2 separate regions of the Homo sapiens genome follow, and region 1 is linked to region 2. The links come from fine-mapping of genetic effects on gene expression. Tissue or cell type: whole blood. Region 2 holds a variant in brackets; the other region holds the start of a gene. All regions are shown on one strand. Distances are between the middles of the regions.

Evidence for each region. PIP is the estimated chance that this variant, and not a neighbour inherited with it, causes the effect.
Region 1: PADI4 starts here. The variant in region 2 is fine-mapped to the expression of PADI4 in whole blood (INTERVAL, PIP above 0.99).

What each region holds. Positions count from the first base shown.
Region 1 is chr1:17,306,217-17,311,362 of GRCh38, reverse strand. PADI4 (peptidyl arginine deiminase 4) reads right to left here and starts at 3,166. Exons shown (of 16, transcript NM_012387.3): 1 at 3,049-3,166. The coding sequence starts at 3,140.
Region 2 is chr1:17,279,022-17,284,167 of GRCh38, reverse strand. PADI3 (peptidyl arginine deiminase 3) reads right to left here. Exons shown (of 16, transcript NM_016233.2): 14 at 3,739-3,818; 15 at 3,372-3,497; 16 at 1-1,322. The coding sequence ends at 1,089. Among named protein-coding and RNA genes, the nearest start is that of MIR3972, 3.7 kb to the right of the region's middle. The variant G/C (reference allele first, on the strand shown) is at 2,118.

The DNA of each region.
Region 1 (5,146 bases), 27 kb before region 2:
GAGTCCACTCCCCAGCATTTGGAGGCAGGGTGGGCTGCGAAGCAGGGTGGGTTTAGGGTCAGACAGTCCTGGCTTTGCCACCTTTAACTTTTTTTTTTTTGAGACAGAGTCTCACTCTGTTGCCCTTGCTGGAGTGCAGTGGTGCAATCTTGCCTCACTGCAACCTCCACCTCCCAGGTTCAAGCAACTCTTGTGCCTCAGCCTCCTGAGTAGTTGAGATTACAGGCATGTGCCACTACTCCCATCTAATTTTTTTTTTTTTTTTTGAGACGGAGACTCACTGTGTTGCCCAGGCTGGAGTTCAGTGGCACAATCTCGGTTCACTGCAGCGTCCGCCTCCTGGGTTCAAGCGATTCTCCTGCCTCAGCCTCCCAAGTAGCTGGGACTATAGCTGCGTGCTACCACGCCCGGCTAATTTTTGTATTTTTAGTAGAGACGGCGTTTCACCATGTTAGCCAGGATGGTCTCGATCTCCTGACCTTGTGATCCGCCTGCCTCGGCCTCCCAAAGTGCTGGGATTACAGATGTGAGCCATTGCGCCCCGTCTAATTTTTTTGTATTTTTAGTAGAGACGGGGTTTCCCCATGTTGGCCAGGCTGGTCTCGAAATTCTGACCACAAGTGATTTGCCCATCTTGGCCTCTCAAAGTGCTGGGATTACAGGCATAAGCCACCGTGCCCAGCTTGCCACCTTTAATTTATGTGACCCTCGGTTAGGTGTTTTTGCCTCTTTTTTTTTGAGACAGAGTCTTACTCTGTCACCCAGGCTGGAGTGCACTAGCCCAATCTTGGCTCACTGCAACCTCTGCCTCCCGGGTTCCTGACTTTGGGGACAGAGAGAATGGCTTGAGCAAAGTTATGGAGGCATGAATATGAGGGGCGGAGGTGAGGAGGGAGTGGCCCTCCCACCTGTGTGGTTCAGGAAGAGGCCGATGGCTGCTCAGGAGATGGGAGGGAGGCGCTGTCTGGGGCTATGTTAAGAACAGATAAGAAGTGACAGGAAGGTCTGGAACGGAGACCCATGGGGAGAATGGAGGGTCCTAGAGTCAGGCTGCCTGGGTTGAGTCCTGGCTCCCCTACTTATTAGCTGTGTGGCTTGAGGTGGGTTACTTAACTTCTTGGAGCCTCTGTTTCCTCTTTTGTAAAATGGGAATAACAACATTACCTGCCTCCCAAGGCCATTGAATGAGTTGAATGTAGGAAGTGTGATGTAAATATTAGCCATTGTTACGTGAGATGTTCAGGGGATAGAGTGACAGGCTCAACGTGTGGCTGAAGGAGGAGAAAAGAAGGATTTAGAGGCCCCTGTGAACTCCGGAGTCCCCATCCTTTCTGGGAGAAATGGGCAGTGCCTTCCTCTCTGCCCAACACTGACCAGCTGTCCACCCACCTCTCTAGGGCCAGAGGAAGCACTTGTGATCTTGATTACTACTCATGGACGCTGGGTAGAGGGCTAGCCTGGGCATGCTGGGAGAGGCCCTGGGCTAGCTTCAGCTCCTGTCATTTCCTTCACACCCATTCTCAGAGGAGTTGGGGGCGCCTCAGATGATGTCAGGTGATTTTCTTTTTCCTTTTCTCCCCAACTTCTTGGTCTCCTGCCTCCACCATGTGGCCCTGGGAGACCATCCCGACATTTCCTGCTGTTCTCTGGCTGCTGGGGCTCAGGCAGTAGCAAAGAAATGTCCCCGGCACTCCTGTGGGCACCATTCTAGGGCCACCGATGCCCAGACTGGGATGGGGAAGCCAGGGGCAACCACTCCTATTCCTGACAACAGCAATTGTTGCAGGATAATTTAGGAATCAGAGAGACCGAGGGGTTGAGGAGGATTTATTATTTAGATTCACTGGCTCAGTCAGGCTAACATTTCAAAAGACTGAGCCCTGAACAAAGAGTTAAGTTATCTTTTAAGCATTTCATGGGGCGGGGGTAGATCTGTGCAGGGGGAAGCATATTATAGAGGCAAGAAACAAAGACAGTTATTTAATTGAGACATGCATTATATTATTTTTTACTTTTTAAGGAAAAAAATTTTTACAGCTTGAGTTTATCTGTCTAGTGACCTTGCAGCTGCACAGCTGGAGAAACAGGGTCTTTACAATGCCTGGAAAAAGAGGAGCAATAAGGCTCACTAGCCACAAAAAAACAGGCAGTTAATTTTTAAGGGACTCCAGCTCTTTTTTTTTTTTTTTTCCAGGGAAAATTGTTTTTTTTTTTTTTAACATAGAACTGAGTTTTTGCTTACACGTTTTAAAATTTCTTTTAATTCCTGTTCTACAATAACAACAATGACCCTGCACACTCCCCGAGAGCATTCCTCAACTCTCTTGTTTAACCCAGACCCTGCCACAGAGCATGGCACTCAGCATTTGTTAAATGAGTAAATAAAAACTACCAAGGATGGGCCCACCACTGTGCTAAGTACTCAGCCAACATCTGCACATTTTTTCACATTGAATTCCTATAACCAGCCCATGATGTGAGTATTATCCCCATTTCACAGATGAGGCAACTGAGGCTCAGTTGCCCAAGGCCTCCTTGCTAGCCAGCAGCAGGTCCAGGCTTCCTACCTCAGTCTCTGCCGCCACAGAGCCCCGTTTCGCCATCCCCACCCACGCTATTATGCACCCACTGAGGGAGGCTTAGCTAAGAGATGTGGGGTAACAAACTGTGCTGTGAACCAGGAGGCCCAGGGGCTAACCTTACTTCCAGGGCACACGTGCTGTGTGACCTTGAGCAAGTCACAGACTCTCTGTAAGCTTCTGTTGCCTCGATGAAGACAGGGAGATGGATGGCCTGGTTTGCCCCATAATAATTTATCTGTCGTGTGTTCCTGGGGAATTTGCACTTGTACATGGCAAAGAACCCACAGCCATGAGACTGGCACTTCCCAGGGCTGCTGGGGTCTTCTCTCTCCAGCTACTCCCCTGGCAGTGGCTGCAGAGGCTGGAGCCTAGAGCCTGGGCCAAACACATGCTCCTGTGTCAGTAGAACTGGGTCATCCAGCATCTCCTGACCTGCCTCCAAAACCCCAGAAGGCCCCCCTCTTACCTGCAGATGTCAAGCTGAGTCAAGGTGCCCAGCACACACACGGCATGGGTGGGCTGCTCTGGGGTCACACGGATCAATGTCCCCTGGGCCATCGTCGGGCTAGCTCGTCCCTCTGGCTGTAGGAAGCCCCTGGGCTGGTTCCTTTATATCGCCCAGCAGAGGCCATGAGTCAGCACCTGCGGTCTGTGGCCCAGAGGCTCAACCCCTCCCCACTCAGGTCAGGGGTGTGGGCTCTCAAAATCTCCTCTGCCCTGGGGCTGCCCCTCGGACCTCTAGATGGGTGTCAATGCTGGTACCAGTGGCAGGGTGGCTCTGTCAGTTTCTTGGGAAGGATGGATGGCTCAGAAAGCCTGGGGTGGAGAGTGGGGCTGAGGGGTTGGGTCCTGGTCCTCATGCCCACAGTCCCATCCCTGCCTAGAGGCCCTGAACACCTTGATCTATCCAATCTCACCTATGTCAAACAGGCATATCAGAGAGGAGAAGGTGGGAAAAGCGGGGAGATTTTAGGTAAGCAGTCACAGGCCAGGCTACACGTTCAAAGACCAACCAGGCTTGGGACAAGTCTCTCCACCTGGGCCACCCACATGACAGCTCACATTCTCTATGCCAGGCACGTTTTCCTGCACTTCACATAGAATAGCTCATTACGACAAACCCGTGAACTAGATCATACCATTATCCCCTTATTTCACCCTCACAGCAGCCCTCTGAGGTTGGTGCCATTATTATACCCATTTTACAGAGGAGAAAACAGAGGTGCAGTTCTTCCACAGCTCGAGAGTGGTAGGGCCAGAATTGGAACCAAAGGTGTCCAGTTCCAGAGTGTGAGATTCATTAGCTGCCTGTCTATATGACACGTGCTTTCCAGACTGTATCACAGCTACATCTCGCTACAATACAAGGTGTATATGGGCTTATTATTACAACCCATTTTACAGAAGGAAAATTGAGGCTCAGAGAGTAAAAGTGACTAGCTCTTGCCCAAGGTGCCAGAGCTAGAATGCGGCAGAGCTGGGAAGAGAAGATGAGCTTCCTGGCATGGAAGTTGATGTTCTCTGCATGCTCCAGGATACCTGCCTCTTGCCAGGGCCTCTGGGTGTCAGACCAGACAGTGCAGGTGTGGGCCACGCCTGCCAGGGGGATGCCCATGTGGCCTCAGAGCTGTGGTTGCACCTGGGCCATTGGTGCCAGGCTCTGCCTTTAATGAGGCAACTGGGGGGTGGTGGATGGGTCCCAACAAGGAGCACTCAAAGGGTGCATGCATGGGAGTCTGGCGTGAACATAGAGCGTTTCGTGGGTTGGATATCTTGCGTTTGTTTTTTGTTTGCTTGCTTTGGCTTTGAAGCAAAGAATTTGCCTCATTAATTCAGAGTCAGGCTGTGGGATCAAACAGGCTTTAGTTCAAATCCTGCCTCATCTCAACATCCCTATGGAGTGCGTCCTATCAGGATGCCCATGTGTAGATGAGACCACAAAGACTTAGAGAGATTGAGTGAGACCCCCAAGGTCTCATAAGCCCTACAGTGGGGATCTGGATTCAGACCACCTTCTCTGGGCTCAAAATTTATCTTCTGTACCAGCAGATGATGATGTGGCCAGGTCCGACGTTCTGACGCATCTACATGACTGCCTGCACACAGTGTTAATAAACCCAATTTCTCTGGCTGACCGCATGATTAGAACTAGTTTGAGCTTCTACTGGGAAGTGGCAGGAGGGAGCTGTCCATTGTTAGAGTTGGGAGGGCCCTTAGAGAACACCCAATCCAGTCCTCGTTTTGCAGAAGGGGAGACTGAAGCACAGAAAGGGAGTGGGACCTGCCCACGGTCACACAGCAAATCAGAGGGAGGGCTGGCCTCTACCCCAAGTCTTAGGTCTCTTGAGGTTGTTTTCTTCTGTTCCTTCTTTTCTTTCTTATTTTCTTCAGCAGTTTGGGGTTTAAATTTGCTGTGAACGAGCCACAAAGAGGACGAGCCCCAAAGCAGTTTTGTTAATTCAACAAATACTGACTGAGTGCCTATTGATGGCCAGGCACTGTTCCAGGCACCGTGGATACGCTGTGAACAAAGTGGACAAAAATCCTGCCTTCATAGAGCCTTT
Region 2 (5,146 bases):
TAGCTGGCACACACCTCGAGAACCGCCCCCCCACCCCCATCCCCTGAATTCAGTGGTTCATTCCCAGAGTTTTCCCGCTGTGAGCTGCCTTGGTGGATCCAGCCCCTTAGCCCCCTCTCCTGCAGCAGAGCAGGATGTGGAAACGCTGACCAAAGGCCAACAGAGAGCCTGAGACCAATCCAGAGGAGAGGCAGCGTTCTCTCCTCCTGCAGAGAGAAGTCCCAGGGCCAATGAAGCAACCTTCTCCAGACACCTAATATTAACCATCACAAGGTGGATCACCATAGTCAACCATGTGTATTATGGGAACTACTTTTCACCCTTGTACCCAGTCTCCCTAGTACCCAACAATCCCCCAGATACTTTCGTCTCCAAGAAATTCCAGGAGGATTCTGGACAAGGCTGGATTTCTGCATGTCAGATCATGGGGAGTTTATAAGGCTAAGGGACAACTCTCATTGCTTCCACATGCATCTAGAAGCTCCTACTATGTGACAGCTCACGCTGGGTGAGGGTCAACATCTGGGCAGGAGCTTGGCCGGGTGAAAGATGGTTCCGCCCTGATCTAAGTGGATCCACAGCTCCCTTTTTATGGGGGAGGCTTTAGGAAGAATCTCTCCTGCCTGTCCTGCGTGGAGTGGTCTGGTTTTAGGGTTGTTCCTCTGCAGAGAGGAAGCAATTGGACCAAAGCAGAATCATGGATCCTTCCTCTGTTAGGATGCACAGGACAAGATGGCTGATGAGATACGTGGATGTTTCTAGACCCCAATGTGGATTTGTCCCCAAATGGATGATTTCAGAGTGAGAAGGGGACATCTCCATGGGTTGTGTTGAATCACAGGAGAGGCTATAAGAAATGAGGTCCTTCTTTTTGGGGGGCCGAGAAGATTCAAGTCTGAGAACCACATGGGTTGCAGGTGAGGCATGGACACTTCCAGGGAAAAGGCTTCTGAGAGGGACGGTCACCCTCAGTGTTCCATCTGGAGCCTTGGGGTCTCTTGGTGCTTATCGTTCAGGGGCCTGTCTCTGTCTCCACCACCTGGGCCAATGCCCGCCCCAGGGGGACAGGATGGTGGGTGGGAGCTGTCTCAGGGCACCATGTTCCACCACTTGAAAGAGAAGGGCTTTCTGCACACATTGGTGCCACAGTGCACCTCCCCATGCAGCATGTGGTATGGAGTGAAGTCATCAATGAAGGTGCAGTGGAGGCCCAGCGGCTCCAGCAGGGACCGCACCTTCTCCTCCAGGCAGCAGCAGCCATTGATGATGGGCCCAAAGGGCTTGGGGATGCCCAGGTGCTTCCCCAGCACCAGCATGTTCACCTGCAGTCCAAAGGGGAAGCAGCACTTCATCACTGGGCTCCCACCCCACACCTCTACTCTACCTGCAGGACCTAGGTTTGTGTTTTAGACAGCCTTGTCAATAGCTACTCACCCTTTCCTGTGCAATGAGAAGGTAACTGGCTAAAGGGGCTGGGAAGAACCGGTTAGCCAGGTGCCTTTGGGAGCATCCGCAGAACTCACTCTGGCAACGTGCTCTGGAAACTGCCCTAATGTGAATTTGGAATTGTGGATTGTGGCAGCTGCCATGTTTGTGCTGCAGAATCCCAACCTTCTAGGCCATAACTGATTGGGCCAGGGAGAACAGCTGGTCCAAGATGGACCAATCAGAGTCCCTCTCCCAGGAATTTGAAACTGACAATGGGAGCGTCTAGTTGGTCTCTGCCCGTGTCAGTGTCTCTGTGCATGGCCATACTCATCTTTGTCCCCAGGAACAGAGAAGCAAAGGAAGCCAAGCTGGAAGAAGAGGGAGAAGAAGTAGGAGGTGGAGAGGGTGAGAGAAAGAGAGAGAATGAATGATGTAGACACAGAAACAGAGAGGGTTCCAGGCTCTGCTGCAGCTATCCTGCCCTCAGGTTTCTGGTGTCCTTATATTAAGACTCCCTCTGGCTGAAGCTGGCTTCAGTAGGACTCTGTCTCTTGCGAACACAAGAACCTGAATCATTGCACAAACTTCTTGGGGCACATATATAATTACAAGATAGCCTCGAACAGGAAGGAAGGGGAGTGAAAAGAGGCTTTGCAAGCGGAGGGCAAAATGTTGCCTGAAAAGAGGAA[G/C]GAAAAAGCGGGGCATGAAGCAATGGTGGTGTGGACAGGTTCCCCACAAGGCTCTGACAATGGGCAAATTGAGTTCTTTTAGGGGATGAGGTGGGGAGGAGTGGAGAGGGGAGCTGGGTGACCTATAGCAGTGCTACTCAAACTGTGTTCCTCTAAAAGGCAGCATCAGCACCACCTGGGTGTTTGTTAGCGCGGCAGCAGTGCCTCGGGCCGTGCTTTAGACCTGCTGAATCAGGACCGCTGGGGTGGGGCCCCACCTGTCCAGGTGTTTCAAAGGCAAGCTCAAGATTTAGAAGCAGGCCAAGCACGGTGGCTTCCGCCTGTAATCCCAGCACTTTGGGAGGCCGAGGCTGGTGGATCACCGGAGGTCAGGAGCTCAAGACCAGCCTGGCCAACATGGCAAAACTCCATCTCTACTAAAAATACAGAAATTAGCCGGGCGTGGTGGTGCACGCCTGCAATCCCACAATCCCAGCTACTCAGGAGGCTGAGGCAGGAGAATCGCTTGAACCCTGGAGGCTGAGGTTGCAGTGAGTGAGATTGTGCCACTGCCCTCCAGCCTGGGCAACAGAGTGAGACTCCGTCTCAAAAAAAAAAAAAGAAAAAAAGAAAAAAAGATTTACAAGCATCAGAGGCAAAGCCCTCAAGGCTCAGTCAAAAGCCACTTCTTCCATGAAGACTTCCTGGATCTCCAGTTCTACCTCTTAGGCTGGAAGTGCTTTGTCTCACCTCCAAACTGCCACATCGCCTTATCCTACAAAATAGATCACTGGGACATGTCCTCAGAGAAGGGAAGAGTTTCCCTCTCAACCGATTAGACTGAAAGTCCCTTGAGAGCAGGGGGCATTCTTAATCATCTCTGCATCTGCCACAGGACACCCTAAATACATGTGGGATGGATGAAGAGCCACAAGCTGGGAGGAAGAGAGCAGAATGAGCATCTGGGTTCCCAGCTGATGCCATGTGCTTTGCACACGTGACCTCATGCAATCATTCATTCACTCCACAAATGTCAAGTGGACCCCTTCCCTGATGCCCCTTGGGCCAGGGCTTGGCCAGCAAGCATTCCACAGGGACCATGGTGGTCAGCCAGCTAGAAGCCCTTCTGAGGAGCACCATAGGACCCCTGATTCTCCCTGCCACCCCCACTGGCCACCACAATCCTAAATATGACTGTGACCAGACATTTTTCCTCTCTCGAGCTTAGAGGTTTGCAGCCTGATTTGGCAAAGGAGTCATGGGTAGTGCCCTCACCAAGTCAGGGAAGAAGGCCGTTGCTTTTTTCCTCTCGGTCTTGAAGAGCTGTGGGATGTCAATGATGTCACACTCTGCCAGGCCCAGCTCCCGCTTCAGCACCTCACGGTTCCAGTCGATGCAGCTCTGGGGGCAGGGGAGGGCCAGAGTTGGGGACACCTTGCCAGTGTGTTTTGGGGGCACCAAGGCATCCTGTCGCTCCCCTCACTTCTTCTGGGTCAAAAGAGGGTGTTGGGACCCCTCTGTCTGGGCCTGTTCTAACCTGAGCTTTCATGAACAGTTAGCCTCAGATGTCTGTATCCCATCCTTGCCTCCAGCCCCGCCTACTCCCAAATCACAGCCCACAGGTACACCACAGCCCTTGTACCTGCACAAACTTATTGTAGTTGATGAGGTCTTTATTGGAGAGCACCTGGTTGATGGAGATGGTCTTGACCTGCTCATCATCTGTGAAGGAGAGAGATGAAAGAGAAGGACAGGGACAGCACCAACGTGAGGACCACCTGCTTAGGGAAGCAGACAGGCAGGAGCCAAGTTCACAGCTAATGGTCTTGCCGAGTCAGCAGCCTCTGACTTTCCCAGGCCTTGGGTGGGTTCCACCTGTCTGAGCTTGCCTTGGCCACTGTGCACATCTTGGGGTATAAGGAGTGGGAGGGTCTGGTTGCCACAGTGGAATGAACTGAGACCTTTATTTGAGTTCACTGGAAGTGGTAACGCCTGTCACTGGAAATGTACAACTGCCCGAGGGCACTGGATGAGGAATCCTCTTGCTTTGGCTTAGCGGGGAGCTGGGTCAGTTGCTGCCCACCCACCCACCATCAGTCAGGTTTTATAGGTTCACTGAGCAGCGAACCAGCCAGTCCTGGGATTCAGACACCATCCAGCCCCAATCCTGCCCTTCAGGGGGTGACTGCGTGAAATGGGGACCTCCCAGGGGTCCAGATTTTCTCAGCCTGATGGTGTGCCCATGCAGATGAGACTGGACAGGGAAGCGGAGGCTAGAGTCAATGGCACACAATCCTCATGGCTGCTACTTAGTAAGCGCTTACCATGAGCAGGCCCCGAGGGGAGTGCCCAGGTTCAGCATCTCATTTAACCCTCACGGTGACCCCCACAAGGTATGCATTATGATCCCCACTTTACAGATGAGAAAACTGAGGCTCAGAGAGGTCAGAAGACTTGCCAAAGGTCACACAGGTAGGATATGTGGGGGCTTGTGATTCAAACCCAAGCCCAGGGCTCGCACAGGGCCTCAAGCCTTGACCAAGGGAAAGGAGAGGGCTCCCCTGACCCATCTGCAGGTCTAACGCCCGCTTCACCCCAGTTTAAGGCAGGAAGCTGGGGTCCAGTCCCAGCTCCACTGCAATCTTGCTGAGGCCTCTGGGCCAGTGACATCCCCTCTCTGAGCCTCACATTCTTGGGAATAAAGGTGGGTGAGAGTCATCCCATTTGATCTCTCGTGAGATCAAATGAGATAACACGTGTGATGCACACAGCGTGAGGCCTGGCGCACTGAGGTGTCTAATCAGTGCTCTGGCCTCTGTGTCTGGCCTCTGTGTCTATGTAATTAATCGCCACAGTCACTGCCTGAGTGTCAGCCCTCGAGGGTGGGGTGGCTGCTTGTGGCCTGCCATCTGTGAATTCTCCCACGCTCCCTCCCAGCTGGGCAGGTTGGAATAACTCTGCTCAACCCATTCCTGGGTCTTGCTCACCATAAGTTCTCCCAGGAAAGATGAAGGTGGCATTTCTCCCTGCCTGGTACATAATTTGGATTT